2 separate regions of the Homo sapiens genome follow, and region 2 is linked to region 1. A link means that fine-mapping ties the variant in region 1 to the expression of a gene that starts in the linked region. Tissue or cell type: whole blood. Region 1 holds a variant in brackets; the other region holds the start of a gene. All regions are shown on one strand. Distances are between the middles of the regions.

Region 1 (8,111 bases):
AATTCGAGTAATTTTAATACAGTAATCCTTTGATGTTTATTACTTGAAGGAACAGTACAGGTTAAGACAGAATAGCAAGAAAACTTGAATGATAATAAAGAGATACAAGGGAGAAAGTGTTACTTTATGTATTATGCCCTAACATTTAAAATATTTTTAGTAACCTTAATTTCATTTTTTAAATATAAAAATAATTAACACTCATAGTAGGAAATATAGAAAAGTGAAAAACCACCATACACTATCTCATTTTCAAGATGAGAATATTTTATTACTATTCTTTTTCTATATGTAAGATTCATAGAATTATAATATAGTGATTAAAATAAAATTGTATGCTACTTATTGCATACATTAGTATAATATAAACATATCTCACAGTAAAATAGTTATTTCTAAACCTTATTTTCAAAAGTAGCTCCCCATCCCATCTTTTTAGGAAAAGAGGATTATCTTTCACATTATTCCTTGATACCAAAGTTATCCAGAGTCTGATATTTATCTAAGCCAGCCTGGTGGTTTGGGAGTTCTTTAACATGTGCAGAATGATGGTCTGGAAAAACCTAAGTTATTGTTCAACAGCTGAATAAACTATCAATATCAAGAGAGCAGTGCAAATCTCTCTAAATAATTCTTTTAAAGAGGAAGCCATCTCAATGGAAATGGGTGAATATTTGTCCTTTGTAATATTATGATGCGAATTTCCAATTACTGAACCCAATGTCAGCTCCTGAACAAGTGAGATAAATGCCTTAGCTCATAGGTACTTTTGACTCCCAAGACATGTCACTCTAAAACCTCATGTTCATTTATTTCACCAACATTTAATACCACAGCACATGATTTATTTGGTATGATTCCAGTGCATTGGCAGGGAAAATAAATAATAGTTCTCTGCATATAATTATCTAGGAGACTAGGTCTTTGACAGGGGAATTACCCATTTAAAGATGGATGGCAAATGCTGCTAGTCATTGGAGAATGTCTGAAAGCCTTTTCTTGTTCCGAAATGAGTCTTTAAAGAAGGCATCTGTAGAACAAATGATTATAGAGGTCACATAGTTCAAATGACAAATTCTGCTAACAAAGCAAGGCTCCTGTGTATTACTGGGCACTTTTGCTTCTTAGGTCATGGAAAGAGAAAAATAAAGAGATAGCTAGGGAAGGAAAAGCAATTGTTCCAAAAACCACCACTATCACCAGCACCACCACCAATGATAACAATAAAATCACCAAAACAATTGCAACAAAAAGTAGATAAAGTTGAAGAGAGAGAGCAAAAGAGCAAAAAGGGAAGTGAAATGCAGAAAAAAGTACATATGGTAAGAATTATGGAGAAATTCTGCCAGTGGTACTAACTGAATAAACTGTCGAATTGATCTAATATATGGTTCAGAGGGCTGACAGCTGAATTTCAGGTATCTTCATTAGCAACTGTGCACCTTTAAAATGCGGCATATCTTTATTTTCCTGTCTTGAAATAAAACAATAGAATATCAAGAAACTCTATTTACCTATAAGGCCCTAATTAGAATGAAATGATGGGTATTAGATAATGTTCTAGACATGATTTCAAATATAAAGACCCATTATTTTTATTTATTTTATGATGAACATATTTTTGTGATATTCTCTGATCTAATTTCCATCCTTTATATCTCTGTATGATTGGTATATTTATCATAAATTTAAAAAACAGAGCTGTTTACCAATATCAAGTGAAAAGTCTCATAATAGTGAACAATTACTAACTGATTACAATACTAACCCAAGAGGTCAATGTGAACTTTCTCATATAATTCTCATAAATTTATTTGAGTTATGTGGCATTGTTATACTTTTTTTACAGCTGGGGAAACTGAGTAACGAAGCAGTTAAGTAACTTGCTCAATAGAGGAGCCATGACTTATAACCCAGGCAGTCTGATTCTGGAAGCTGTGCTCTTAACCACGACACGAAGTAAAATAAAAGTGAAAGAAAAAAAAAGCCAGGAATAAATGAGGTTTCTTCAGGCATACTTTATGATTTTTACTTAATATTTTCAACATTGATTTAACTAATATTTACCAAGCACCTTTTAGATTCGTCGTACCATGCTGCACTGTATTATTGTGATTGATGAATGATATGTGTGGTGCCTGCCACATGGAATATATAATCGAGAGAGATAATGAAATATAAATAATTTGTCAATTTTTCATTTATTGCAAACACAGATCTGGGTGTTCTGGGGCCATTTTAATTTTTACAATATAATTATTACTAAAGGTTAAATAGCTTAGAATATATATGTATACATATACATATGTTAGTACATATACACAATATATGTACATATACAATATATACATATATTGTGTATATGTTAGTACATATACACAATATATGTACATATACAATATATACATATATTGTGTATATGTTAGTACATATACACAATATATGTACATATACAATATATACATATACGCAATATATGTACATATACAATATATACATATATTGGGTTTGTGAGTCTTCCATTCTAATGTTAACTTTCCTAAAAATGTTGACTGTGTTATTAGGCAAGTTGTAACTACTTTTTACATCAAGCATCCCATTCACCAAATGATGCTAATGCCTACTACAAATGCAGGAAAAAATGATGACATAATTTTTGGGTAGAGTTCTCAGCTCTGTGGTAGGGCAAGAAAAACAAAAACCTTCATTGTCCACCTTGAATAATTACTATACAGTGGAGACTAATCCTTGATCTCAAGTTAATAACGGGAAGCTATCTGAAGGTGCTTGCTTTGAAAGATTACAGGCTTAAGCAGATATAGGGGGATCATAAATAGCAGACATATTGTGAAATAAAATTTTACTCCAGGAGTACTAAGAATGTTTTTATAAGGATGTTGAAATAATGGGTTGAAACCATGGAGACTGAGTTAGGCATTGGATGAGCTGTTTCCACATTGTGCCAGAGGTGAAAAGATGAAGGTGAAGAGGGAAGCTATTGAGCTGTGAGAAGGTTATAAGTAAACTAAAAAGTGGACTGAAGGATAGAGTAACTGTTTCTGGAAGGAGTTGCCTAAGCCAAAAACCTTTTCCTGGCATACCCGTAGAACATCTTGTTTTTATGCTGAAAAGAGAGTCCACATTAATGTAGTTTAGTTGTGTTTGCATCCTTGTGATTTTCTGAAGCTCATAATAAGTGTGCTAGGAATAGCTTAATTGTTGTAGTTTACATCATAAAGTAATTACCACCATCATGGTGGTCAGTAGAGATCTTCTAAGGATAAAATATGTGCTAGTGTTTTTTTCACTTTGCATCATTTTTTCTTTCTTTTGGCTATGATTTCTTGGGAATAATACAGAGACAACAAATGATGTCTTAAATTCATAGTTCTTACTCTTCTGCCAACTTTTTTTTCATATAACTATCCCCTGGTTGGAATAGGATTTTCTACCTTTGCAATATGTGTATTAAAAACCGAATTTGTGGCCGGGTGCAGTGGCTCATGCCTGTAATCCCAGCACTTTGGGAGGCTGAGGCAGGCAGATCACTTGAAGTCAGGAATTCGAGACCAGCCTGGTCAACATGGTGAAACCCCGTCTGTAATAAAAATACAAAAATTGGCCGGGCATGGTGTCATGTGCCTGTAATCCCAACTACTTGGGAAGCTGAGGCAGGAGAATAACTTGTAACTGGGAGGTGGAGGTTGCAGTGAGCTGAGATGGTGCCACTACACTCCAGCCTGGGTGACAAGAGTGAGACTCTGTCTCAAACACAAACAAACAGACAAACAAATAAATGGAATTTGTAATTGTCCAAAACATACAAACAAACAAATAAATGGAATTTGTAATTGTCCACAACAAAAATTGATGGTAGAGAATATAACCAGTTGTTATCTACTTGTAAATAGATGGTTACTTTTTTGTTCGTTCATAACATAGAAATAATGATATTATTAAAAA[TA/A]TCTCTTTTTTTTACTGGATATGGGCAAAGTAGTAGTCATGTATATCAGTGTGTGAGTCATGGGCAGATAGCATCAGCATTACCCACAAACCAGCCTTTTTCCAGCCCTACTGAATTAGAAACTGTTGGTAGAGTTCAGGAATAGATGGTTTAACTAGTTTCTCAGGTGGTCTTTATGAAAACGAAAGTTTGAAAAGTCCTAGTTCATGTCACTTTCATTCACATTCTCTTGGCCAGAACCCAATCATCTGACCCTAATTTCATGCAAGGCTGTGAGAGAAGCCAGTTTCCAGAGCAACTCTACCCTTCGGTACACAGAAATACCCAACTCGACCTAGTGTTTGGCAAACAACTAGCTATCTCTAGCTAGCATTAATCTTTCAGAAGAAAAGTTATGTCACAAGAAAATAAGTTTTAGAAGGTACTGGAAATGTTGTTTAATCAATAGTCAACCCAATTTTATTTATTTGTATTGCTTTATATTTAAAATATAGTGCTAATTCTCTTTTATATTTGTGGCACTTTGAAAAAAATTCAACTAAAAGCCTTGATAGAAAAAAAAGTTTCAATGAAAAGGATGTGTTCTGAGCAGAGCCAAATTTCTATTTATTTCTGCCAATTGCTAACCAAGTGGCATTGGGAAAGTTGAACCTGTTTTAAGAAATTCAAAGTAAAATAAAAGCTTTAACATTGAGGATACTTGAGGTTTGACAGTTTTATGTTTTCTAAGTTAATATTTTGGGATTATAATTAAATCCAATGATTAAATGAATATGTATTTGATTATTTTATGCTTTGCAAAGGTAGTTACTGGGGATTAAAACTTAGTCTAGTGATAGGAGAACTAGATATGTAAATAAATAAAAACAGTACATATGTGATTTTATTGTCTTTTATAAGTTTCATATGTTTCAGCTTTAAAAGCAAATCTATTAAAATAGTTAATTCACAATTTAGGACTATTTCTAGTGGTATTATGAGACAGACCATGCAGAGTTTTATTTTTTTATTTTTTTATTTTTGAGACAGTCTTGCTCTGTCACCCAGGCTGGAGTGCAGTGGCATAATCTTGGCTCACTGCAACCTCCTCATCCTGGGTTCAAGCAATTCTTCTGCCTCAGCCTCCCAAGTAACTTGGGATTACAGGCATATGCCACCACACCTGGCTAATTTTCGTTTTTTTTTTAGTAGTGATGGAGTTTCACCGTGTTGGCCAGGCTCGTCTCGAACTCCTGACCTCGAGTGATGTGCCTGCTTTGGCCTCCCAAAGTGCTGTGATTACAGGCATGAGCCATTGCACCTGGTCCCATATAGCATTTATTAATTATATGTTTTAAGTTTTTCCTCATTACTGTATAAACAATAACTATTACTGTATTCTCAGTTCCTGGAACTGTATATACTTAGTAGAATAGCATGCACTATATATTTGTTAAATTAATGAAACAAAATATTAAACCCCATGGTTTAGTTATGACTCAGAGTATCTTCCTTACCATTCCCTAGTACATTGTGGCCAACAATTTTCATGCCTTATGTATCTATCAAGCAATGTGATCTATGATAATCACCAGTGCAACTAAAGAAAAATAAAAAGAGCTTAGTGTTGTTATCTCTGAAAAATGAGTCAAGTGGTCACTCTGGTCTATGTGGATTTTTAAAGCTTTGTGCTGGTAATAAAGAAGTCCAATTTGTAAAGGAGAAAAAAACACATAGCAAAAGGAGAAGACTTCTGTTTGAGCTTGTGAATAGGCAAGAGAAATAAAATAGATTTAAATAGGAAAATTATATAGCTCTTCAATTAAAACAATAAAAGATGTTAGAGTGTCTTTTAAAAGAAATAAATGCTTAGGATAAATTCAGGTTTTTAATTGTTGTTTTTATTGTCACTTATCATTAACTTCCTTGTCAACCCAACCCCAGTGGCACTTTCTAGAGATCTTTGGTTTATTTCTTAGGAGTGGGCTGTCTTCTTTCTCTGTTTCAAAGCAACTGCTGTCTATTTCCTCTCCTAGGCTCTAAAAATGAATCACAAAATGTGTCATTTGTTCAAAGCAAAGATAGCCTCTTCTATATTCAGCAGGACCAAATCAGGTAATATACATGAACAGGCCTCATATAACTTGTTTTTGCTGTTGTTTTTAGAATCTGGAGAACAACTACCCAACTGCAGAGTAGGGGTGTTGCTCCTGCTCTGTGCGTGTTTGTGTTTTAAGAGACTGAGTGAAATCACCCATTTTAAAGGACAGATCAGAGACATTTAAACAAAATTGAATTTGGAGTTTGGATGAAAAATTTACTCCATTTTCTTACAAAAACCAAACTAAATCAAACCATGTTTTCATTTTGTTCACCATCCATTGAGAACATTATGGATTTTTTCTCTCTGTTTTTTAAATTTTATTATCGTATATTAAAATTTGGTTTTAAAGTTTGTTTGTTTTTTTTTGTTTGTTTGTTTTCAGATGAGTTTGGGCGCATTCAGGGCAGTATGACCATAGCCTGGTTTTTTTATTTTCAGAAACAATGCCTTTAGTCCTTTAATTTCCTCTCTACTTGCTCATCTGACATGTGTTCATTGCTCTCATTCTCCTGCTTCTCTAAATAATATTAAGTAACAGAAAATGTGCTATTTAATAAAATTAAAATGAAGTTTATTAACATATTTTTCAGAATACTATATATATTCTTAATATTTGTTTGTGTCCAGAGAATTTTTACTTTAATGTAATATAAACCTTAGGACTAATTGAATTGGAAGTATATTCTAAAGGCTACTTACTCCACCATTCTATGTTAACTCACAAACTATATAACAGAAAAAAATCATTTTTTTCTTTATGATAAATCTTAGATTAATTTTGACAAGCTCAGCATGACAATCAAACTTGCTGTACAACTTTGATTTATGTGAAAACACACACACACACATACCATCCATCAACTCTTAAAAATTTCTTCTGATTGATTGGCTAGAGAATGAAAGATTTACAGAAATATATTAGACAAAAGAACAAGCTATGAAGCTAAAATACTAATTACTAATGACAGAAGGGCAATAACATTTATTGGGAAAAGTATCTCTTCCCCTGAAGCATCTTAAAGGTTGTCTATTGATGGCTTCAGTGCTTTTCAAGGGTTAAACAAGACAATCAAATTAAATTCATATTTGCATATATGTAAGTATGGTTGAACAGTATAAATAATGCCACCTTTATGTCTAATAAATTATACTACATGAAAAAGATGGACTGCTCATCATCAACATATTCTAATTAAATCTCTTCTGTGAACTGAAGTGTGCAGTTCACAGTATGCATGAAAGCTTTACAGGCTTTCAGTTTCTTAAAGCATTTGAGAAGGATCATAAAACTGTAAACAAACAGAGTCCTCTCTAAATAACCAACTTAAGTCTCCTATCATAATTAAAATAATTTTCTAAAAGCACATGATCCAAATTGAGCCAAGAATTAATTTAAAAAATAAACAGAAAATAAAATAATATTAAATATGAAACTGAAACTATCTACAAAATCACCTAATAAACAGAAATATGTTATATGATGACAGTGAAGTTTACATATTCTTCCCACTTTGCTAGAGATCAGTGCTTGTAGGGGAAGAAAATTTGAGAATTATCAGGATGATATTTCTTCTTATTTCACCAGGTACATGTTAACATCTCAGTTTTCCTAAACTAAATGTATGCATTTTTCATTATAAAGTACCTTTACTCACTTAAAGCTTCCAGTTAGCAGAAAGTTCATTTCTATGTGGCTTTGGGATTTGTACTCTTTATTTGGGCTAAAACCTTGTGAAGCAAAGACAGCTGAGGGGAAAGGACAAGAAGCTACATGGAATTCTTCACCTTAAGGCTGGAGTCAGAGAGGAAGGGAGTGCCAGCGACCCCAGACGTGTGTCAAGGTGTTCCCCTGCCAGAGACTTGGAGCCAACTCCAGCCACTACCTGGTGAGATACTGTACTGCCACTGCAACAGAACCATCTCCAGGATCCACTTCACTTCTTTACAACAGCTTGCTCTGTGACAAACCCAGTGCCTAATCCTACCTCCCTGCACAAAGAAGATGATTCAGGTGCACACTCTTTGCCAAAAACTTTAATATTGACAGTAGTCTTTATGTTGTGT
Region 2 (8,099 bases), 190 kb before region 1:
TTTGGGAGGCCAAAGTAGGTGGACTGCCTGAGCTCAGGAGTTCGAGACCAGCCCTTGAGATTCCGTCTCTACCATAAATATAAGAAATTAGCCGGGTGTGGTAGTGTGTGCCTGTAGTTCCAGCTACTTGGCAGGCTGAGACATGAGAATCACTTGAACCCTAAAGGTGGAGGTTGCTGTGAGCCAAGATTATGATACTTCACTCCATCCTCGGTGAAAGAGTGAGACTCTATCTCCCCAAAAAAATGAAAAATAAAAAATAAAAAGAGTAGAATCACAGAGATGAAAAGAAACTTCATTTTATAAGTTGTTCACTTTACAAATGAGAAACTGAAAACAGCAGAGCTGGTAATATTTGCCCAGGATCACAAAGCTAATTGTGGAAGACTAAAAAAGCTAGATCCTCTACCCATTTTTTTGTTCTTCGGGTAGTTCCCATTCTTGTCCTAACTCCAGAGGAAAAGAGAAGAAAGGCCCTGGAGGAAAATAGGAGGTAATCCTATTTTCTAAGTGCACGAAGACAAAGAATTGGGGAAATAACACAACTGCTGTCAGGTGATAAATACTACCAAGGAAGTAATTCCCAACATGTGTTCACCATAAATCTCAATTCCTTCTCCTGGCTTTAATATGGAAGTCAGGCAAATACAAATAACTCTTGCTTCTCCTTCCCCAAAATTCACATTAGTCAGTTCTGCTATAATGTAACATGTGCATTCCTTGAAATCACTGCACTATGCAAAATCATGCAGTAAAAACTACAGAGCATAATGGGAAAATGGGGCTAGGAGAACAACACTCAACCTAATTAAAATAGTAGTACAGTTTTAACTGGTTAACTGGTTAATTACATGATGCTGTAATAAATAGGGCATTTTAATTGAAAAACACCAGAAGTTTGCTCCTGGAAGTGAGCATCCAAAGGGTTGCAGCTTACGAGTTACTGTGAAGGTATTGGGTGAGGAGTTGGGACAGGAGATGTGGTTGGGTGGAATACATCATAACCACATGTGATGAACTAAGGGAGCTGGTCGATATTTGAAGATTGTACGTGTGTCTGCGTGCATTATGTGTATTATCACACATCTTTATTCATCTAGGTGCAGTCTTCTGTGCCTATCTAGAGGTTTCTCAGGGACAAAATTGCACATAAGCAAGCCAAAAATCTGTTATGCTTACATTGTTCTCTAATATATCAATCATGTTGAAGATTCATGTTTTCAAAACAGGTGTTATAGTAGAACTGACTATAAATTTCTTCCATTCATATAATGGCCCAAGAGATTTCCTGACTGTACCCTCCCTAACTTTACCATGAAACAACCTTAATGGTTCTCCTATTCTGACTTTCAGACAAACTGGTATGAGCACTGTCAAATGACTAATTTTAAGCTCTATTCACTAGGTATCAAGATCAACATGATTTATTTTTGTAGCTATACTTTTAAAAGACCAAAAAAGGAACTTCATTTTTAAAAATAATATAACGTTAACAATCAAGGAAAAATAATTACCATCACCAGTATCAAATTTTTTAAGTGGCACAAAATTTGAGCCAAACAAAAGGATAGCTACAAAACAGGAGATGTAACCAAAGGTTAGGTCTGCTCCATTGTTGCTCATGATTCCAGTCTTAATGAGTTAGCTGGTTCACTTTAGACTTGATGTACTTTTCAGGAGCTTCTGAAATAAAAGAAAAAATGAAACAATTGAGACGTGAATCTGTGACCAAATTGTGATTAACATATTATATTTATTGAATTTTTCAAAAGCACGCTAAGACTCCTTTTTGCAGATAGGATATTACACAACTATATATAATGTTTGTACTTCATGTTAATTTATTCTATCACCAAATATTTTTGATCACTAGCCTACAATTTAAAAAGAACAAGCCCTGAAGACAAATTTTTAGTACATTACAAAAAAAATTCTCCTGTGTAGGTTCCATCACTGCAGAAAGTTTTAGCGGATAACGCTGCTAAGCTTATTTAACAGCTTTAGCTTCTCTATGAAGAAAGGACTAAAACCACAAATAACCAAGAATTAGACATTTTTTCATAAAGTTACCATTTGGAAAAGGCCACTGAATACAATTCAGATTTTTAGTTTCCCGAGATACATGAGAAAAAAGCACCACCAAAGTAATTTTATCACAGGAGGTACAGCGTCTTTCCACAATGCCATCTTGGATTCATATTTTGCACACTGGCCCTTTGGAATAAGCCCTCTGGAATAGAAGCAGAATAATCCAGTGGTTTCTTTTTTCCTGCAAATTTAATGTTATAGTAATAACTTCTTGTATATATGTATTGAATAAAGTACACCTGAAATCACCTTTCCTTGTTATTTTATTTCACAATGACAAATATTTAAAGGTCCATGTATTGTTCCTTATGTGTTCTTGCAGAGAATATTAAATATACAACAACCTACAAAATATGTTATTTACCATTATTAAAGATAGTTTAACTGAAAACAAGGATCACTTCAAAACTGGTCAATAAACTTTAGTAAAGAAAATGTGTATTTGAAATTGTGTGGACTTTCTTAAAACAAAAACACATTGCTATTAAGAAAACATCCTCTATAGGGATGTGGTTGAGGAAGACACACTGAGGCACATTTCAACATTGACACATTAACACTATTCAATAAAAATAATTATTATTCTACTGTTAGGCTCAAAGAGAGGTTCAGCCCTGCAGTGACTTACATGGGTTATGGCTCAAGGGTCAGCTGAGGCAGGTGCTTGCTGCTAAGATAACAGAGGTGCCAAGATAACAGAGGTGCAACAGGTCAGAGATGCAGGAAGTGTCTTGAAAAGCTAACCTATGACTAAAAAGACACATGACTGGGTGATAGCTAACACATCATTTTCTCCCCATTTTAATTCACAACAAGCAAAGCAAAACAAAACCTTTATGTGTACATTGATAGAAGAGAATGTCTAACCTTCAAGAGTGGCAAATTATTTTATTGAGAAGGCTCCACAAAGGCCCTACACCTCTGAAACGGAGAGACTAATTTGACGTGCTAATTAGAGTGCATGAGGTGCATTTCGACTACTGAATAAACATCAATCAGTTATTACCTATAGATAAATGAAGTTTATTGCATGCAGCTCTTGTACATTTCAGAGCATGTGATCTTATTTCATTGTGAATTGGCAATAACTTACTGTCTTTAAAAAGGCTCTACCGCTCTCTAAAATAATGAAATTTTTGTGGAAAAGAAAAGCAGTATCACTCCATCCAGCACATTTTTCCCAATTCTTCCTGCACAAAACCTAAAAAGTCTCAAACATTATTTTAATGTTTTCTTTTCAGCGTTCGCTGATATTTTGTCAAACTATATTAATTCATTTTTATTTTATTACTTTTGTTTCATTTATTAGTAAATACTTCTCCTTTACATTTTTCCTAGTAATTTAAACTTCTACGCAGACTTTGAAAAAATTCGTATTTGGTATGTTCTGATCAATACTGCTTGCTCCACTCCAACTAAAATTTCATTTTTAGTTTCATGTTGATTTTCCCAAATCTCCAGGCAAGTACCGCCTGTCTTTGGGCTAAAATTAACAGTGCTTGAATGTATTTATTCCGAGCCTTGATTTTTCTTTTTAACCATGAGCACGTTTCTGAAAAATCATGAGACGCTCCCCTGCAAAGCGACTTGGCTTTCCTTTGAGTGGCTGTACTCACTGCGTTCCGGGCTGGCGGCTGAAGCTCCTTCCTACTCAGCGCCGGCGCGATCCGCCCACTACGTGCCAGTGTGGAGCCGGAGCCTGACTCATTCCCTCTACGTGCTGGGGGCGGCCTGGCCAGCCTTTACTTTCTGCGGGGACAATTTCCCATACACCGGCCGGGAGGAGAGGGGAGGGCTCTAGCACCCGTGACCCAGACTCCCGTTCCCAGGGTGCTCGCGAAGAGCGCCAATCCAGCCTTGACTTCCTGCTGGGACGTTTACCTCCACTTAAGGAGGGTGGAGAAAGGAGGGCTTTAGCACCGGTGACCTAGAGGCCTTCATAGGACAGCAGGTTGGGGAACGCCTTCCTTCAGTTGCTGTGCTGGACTGAATTGTCAGGTGGCTCAAAAGGAGTCGTCAAGCCCTGGGTCGGTCAACCAGGAAACTAGAAGAGTTTTGTGTATTTCAAGAGGTGATTATTCAGGAAACTCTCAGCATGTCACCCTCTCTAAGTGTCACAGAGGGAGGTATTATTTGTGCAGTTTATGGATAAAACAAAAGTCTGAGGAATTTCACACCATTGTAAAAGATTATCTCAAGTGAATTTTTCCACTTGGTATTAAGAAATTCATCTGCACCACTGACGTCATTAACATTTCTTGTGACATTACAAGATTTCACTTGTAATCACTAATTCTTTGTAGATGCACCTAAGCCATTTATCTGTACAGGCCATTTATCTGTATTTTTTTTTTTTAAGACGGAGTCTCGCTCTCGTCCAAGCTGGAGTGCAGTGGTGCAATCTCGGCTCCCTGCAACCTCCGCCTCCTGGGTTCAAGCGATTCTCCTGCCTCAGCCTCCTGAGTAGCTGGGACTACAGGCACCCACCACCACACCTGGCTAATTTTTTTGTATTTTTAGTAGAGACGGGGTTTCACCGTGTTAGCCAGGATGGTCTCGATCTCCTGACCTCAGGTGATCCGCCCGCCTCGCCCTCCCAAAGTGAGGGAGTCCTCTCAAAAAAAAAACAAAACAAAAAAAACATCTCTTCATGTGGGTTCGCATACACCAAAGGATGCAAACTTTAAGTTGGAAAGGGGAAGTGTAGGTTCTGTGCTAGTCTGAGTTCAAAGAAGCCTTCTCTGAGGAAGTGCTATTTAACCCGAGACCATCCAGTGGTTGGTAATGGGTGTAGCATTCACAGGAAGGAGAAAACACAAGGACTGTTAAAATATGACATTTCCTAGAAGGAAGTTCTGCCTTAAACATTAATCACATCCATAGACTATCATGTCAGATGAGCAGATGGGAAGGCAAAATAACATTTCATTTAAAGAATTAAAGCAGCAAAGCTTTTTCACTTAAGGAAGAGGATTAATTTAGCAGTTCAGAAAGATTTTGAAGAAATCAGTTCCCCTTTCCACACATGCACACCTAAGACACACACACATACACAAACTTGCTTCCAAAAATATAGGGCCTAAATCCAACCTAGAATTGTTTCACTTCATGGTCACAAGATCATGTGGTTTATTCTTGCTTCACTCACATGGAGAAACTGAAGCTTGTGTCAGCATTTGCTGAGAATTTCTAAAGTCTAAAAGTGAGTTGGGGGCTGAATTAGGCCTGAGAAGATTCATTAGGGATATGCTAGGCCATTGCCTTTTACATTATGCCACAGAGCAAATCCAAACATGCATGACTCTATTCTTAAACTAAAATTTTTCTTTCAAATTGTTTCGTATACATGAATGCCTAAACAGAATGGTCTGTATTGGGAGAGTCCTGGCAGACACTAGAAGATCCAGGTTCTGACTTTAGCTTCGTCTGTTAGCAATATTTCTCATGGAAACTCATTTAATCTCTTTAAACCTTAGTTTTCTTATATGTAAAATGATAATAATAAGACCTGTGCACCTCCCCCTTTTATGTGGTCAAAAGAGATATATATATATATATATATATATATATATATATATATATATATATATATATAACATTATTACTAGGACTTCTGGTTTCTGCTCTGACATTTGAAAGGTGTGAAAGTCTCCACTTCCATCATCACAACAAGAAAAAAATGAGCAAATCAAAAATCAACTACTCTTTTTAGATCTGCAGAGAATTGATGTCATAGGACATGCCACCTCTTTGCAAACTGAAGAAATAGGTGAATACGGAGAATTACAGCTTATCAGGACAGCAAAAGCCACTGGAGCCAGTAAAGGATAGGGGGGCATTTATACAGTATTTGGCCTATTGCTGAAGGCTGAGTGTGGACTAACTTGAGAGTTGAAAACTCAGAGACAGTGGGAGTCATTCATATGGGAGCATCCACACATTAATGAGTTTTACTTTCAGAAGACAGGACAAAAGTTTCCTCTTTTTTCTGGCATGTGGGAGGAAAACAATAACTATTTGAAATATACTCAGAAACAAAAGCCTGTCCTCAAGGTAAACTTTACCCCAGAGCTTTATCTGAATTAGAGAAAAGGCAACTAGACAGTTTGAACACCTTCTACACTTTCTTTCTCACATAAGGAGAAAAACAAAAGAAGAAACCCTTATGAAGTTCACAGCTCAGGGATTCTGGACAACTAGAAAACAGAGTTTTAGATGTTGGCAAAGATACAGAGAAAAGGGAATGCGTATATACTGTTAATGACAATGTAAACTAGTAAAACCCCTACGGAAAACAGTATGGGGATTTCTCAAATAACTGAAAATAGAAGTACCATTTGGCCCAGCAATCCCACTATTGGGTATCTACTTGAAGGAAAAGAAATTGTTATAATCAATGACACTGGCACTCATATATTTATTGGGGTACTATTCACAATTAGGAATCATCCTAAGTGTCCATCAGTAGTTGATTGGATAAAGAAGATGTGGTATATATAAACTATGGAATATTACGCAGCCATAAAAAGGAGTGAAATCATGTCCTTTGCAGCAACATGAATGGAGCTAGAGGCCATTATCCTAAGTGAAATAACTCAGACAGAAAATCAAGTACTGCATGTTCTCACTTATAAGTGGGAGCTAAACAATGGGTACACATGGACATAAAGGTAAAATAATAGATGCTAGGGACTCCAAAACAGGGAAACGTGGGAGAGGAGAGCAGATTGAAAATTATCTATTGGCTGTAATGTTTACTATTTGGGTGATGGGTTTACTAGAAGCCCAAACCTCACCATTACAGAATCTATCCATGTAGGAAACCTGCACATGTGCCTCCTGAATCTAAAATTGTTTAAAAAGAAATAAGAATTTAAAAATAGAGATTTTATCATAACATTATAGAATGTATCAACTCTCCAATATCTTACGACCACATAAATAGTGTTTTGGTATAATAACTGTGGATCACAACTAGAGAGAGTTGCAAGACACAGACTCTGCTTAAAAATGAGTCTCTAGGAAAACCCAAAGACAACAAATAGGGGAGACAAAAAGAAAGATATTAGAGAAAATAGAAGCCTCTGATACTTACAGCTACAACAACCATTAAGCACAGTCTAACTTCTGGCCCAATACACATAAAAACTAAAGGTCTACTTATCTTGTTTTCTATTATCTGATACATCATGCCTCACTTTCAATGAACAATTATAAGGCATGCTAAAAGGCAAGAAAAAACACAGCTCTGAAATGTCAAAGCAAGCCTCAGAACCAGATTCAGATATGGCAGGGATTTGGGAATTATGAGACTGGAAATTTAAAATATGCTATGACTAATATGCTAAGAGATCAACTGGGAAAAGTGCAAGAACGAATAAACAGAAAGATGAAAACTCAAAGAATCAAAAGGAAATGTTAGAGAACAAAAAATACTACAATAGAAAAGAGAATCACTTTTGATAGCTGCAAAAGAATCAGTGAGCTTGAAGGTATGTCAGTTGAAACTTCCCAAACTTAAATGGAAACAGAAAACAGAATAGGAAAAAGAAACACAATTTCCAAGAACTGTATGAAAATTACAAAAGGCATAAAATACAGGTAATAGCAATACCAGAAGGAAAAGAAAGAAAGCAGCAGAAGATACATAAATAATAGTTATCTAGGTATCTAATAATGGTGGACAACTTTCTAAAATTAATAACAGACATCAAACCACAGATCCAGGAAGATCAGATAACACCAAGCAAGATAAATTTTAAAAAAACTACATGTAGGCATATTGTATACAAATTGTGGAAAATAAAGAGAAAATATTGAAAGGAGTCAGAGGAAAAACTATCACCTTACTTATAAGGAACAAGGATGAGAATTAATCAGACTTCTCAGACACCATGCAAGGAAAAAGAGAGTAGAGTGAAATATTTAGAGTGTTGAAAGAAAAATCCACCAACCTATAATTTGTTTCTTATTCTTAATTGATCGCATAGATAACTTCAAAATAATAATAT

Evidence for each region. PIP is the estimated chance that this variant, and not a neighbour inherited with it, causes the effect.
Region 2: TMEM144 starts here. The variant in region 1 is fine-mapped to the expression of TMEM144 in whole blood (INTERVAL, PIP above 0.99).

What each region holds. Positions count from the first base shown.
Region 1 is chr4:158,011,473-158,019,583 of GRCh38, reverse strand. All of the region lies in intron 1 of LOC105377509 (a long non-coding RNA gene), which reads left to right. Among named protein-coding and RNA genes, the nearest start is that of GASK1B-AS1, 160 kb to the left of the region's middle. RefSeq lists a silencer at 3,711-3,867. The variant TA/A (reference allele first, on the strand shown) is at 3,964.
Region 2 is chr4:158,206,192-158,214,290 of GRCh38, reverse strand. TMEM144 (transmembrane protein 144) reads right to left here and starts at 3,805. Exons shown (of 13, transcript NM_018342.5): 1 at 3,705-3,805; 2 at 2,717-2,838; 3 at 1,515-1,683. The coding sequence starts at 1,623. RefSeq lists enhancers at 3,873-3,962, 3,863-4,417.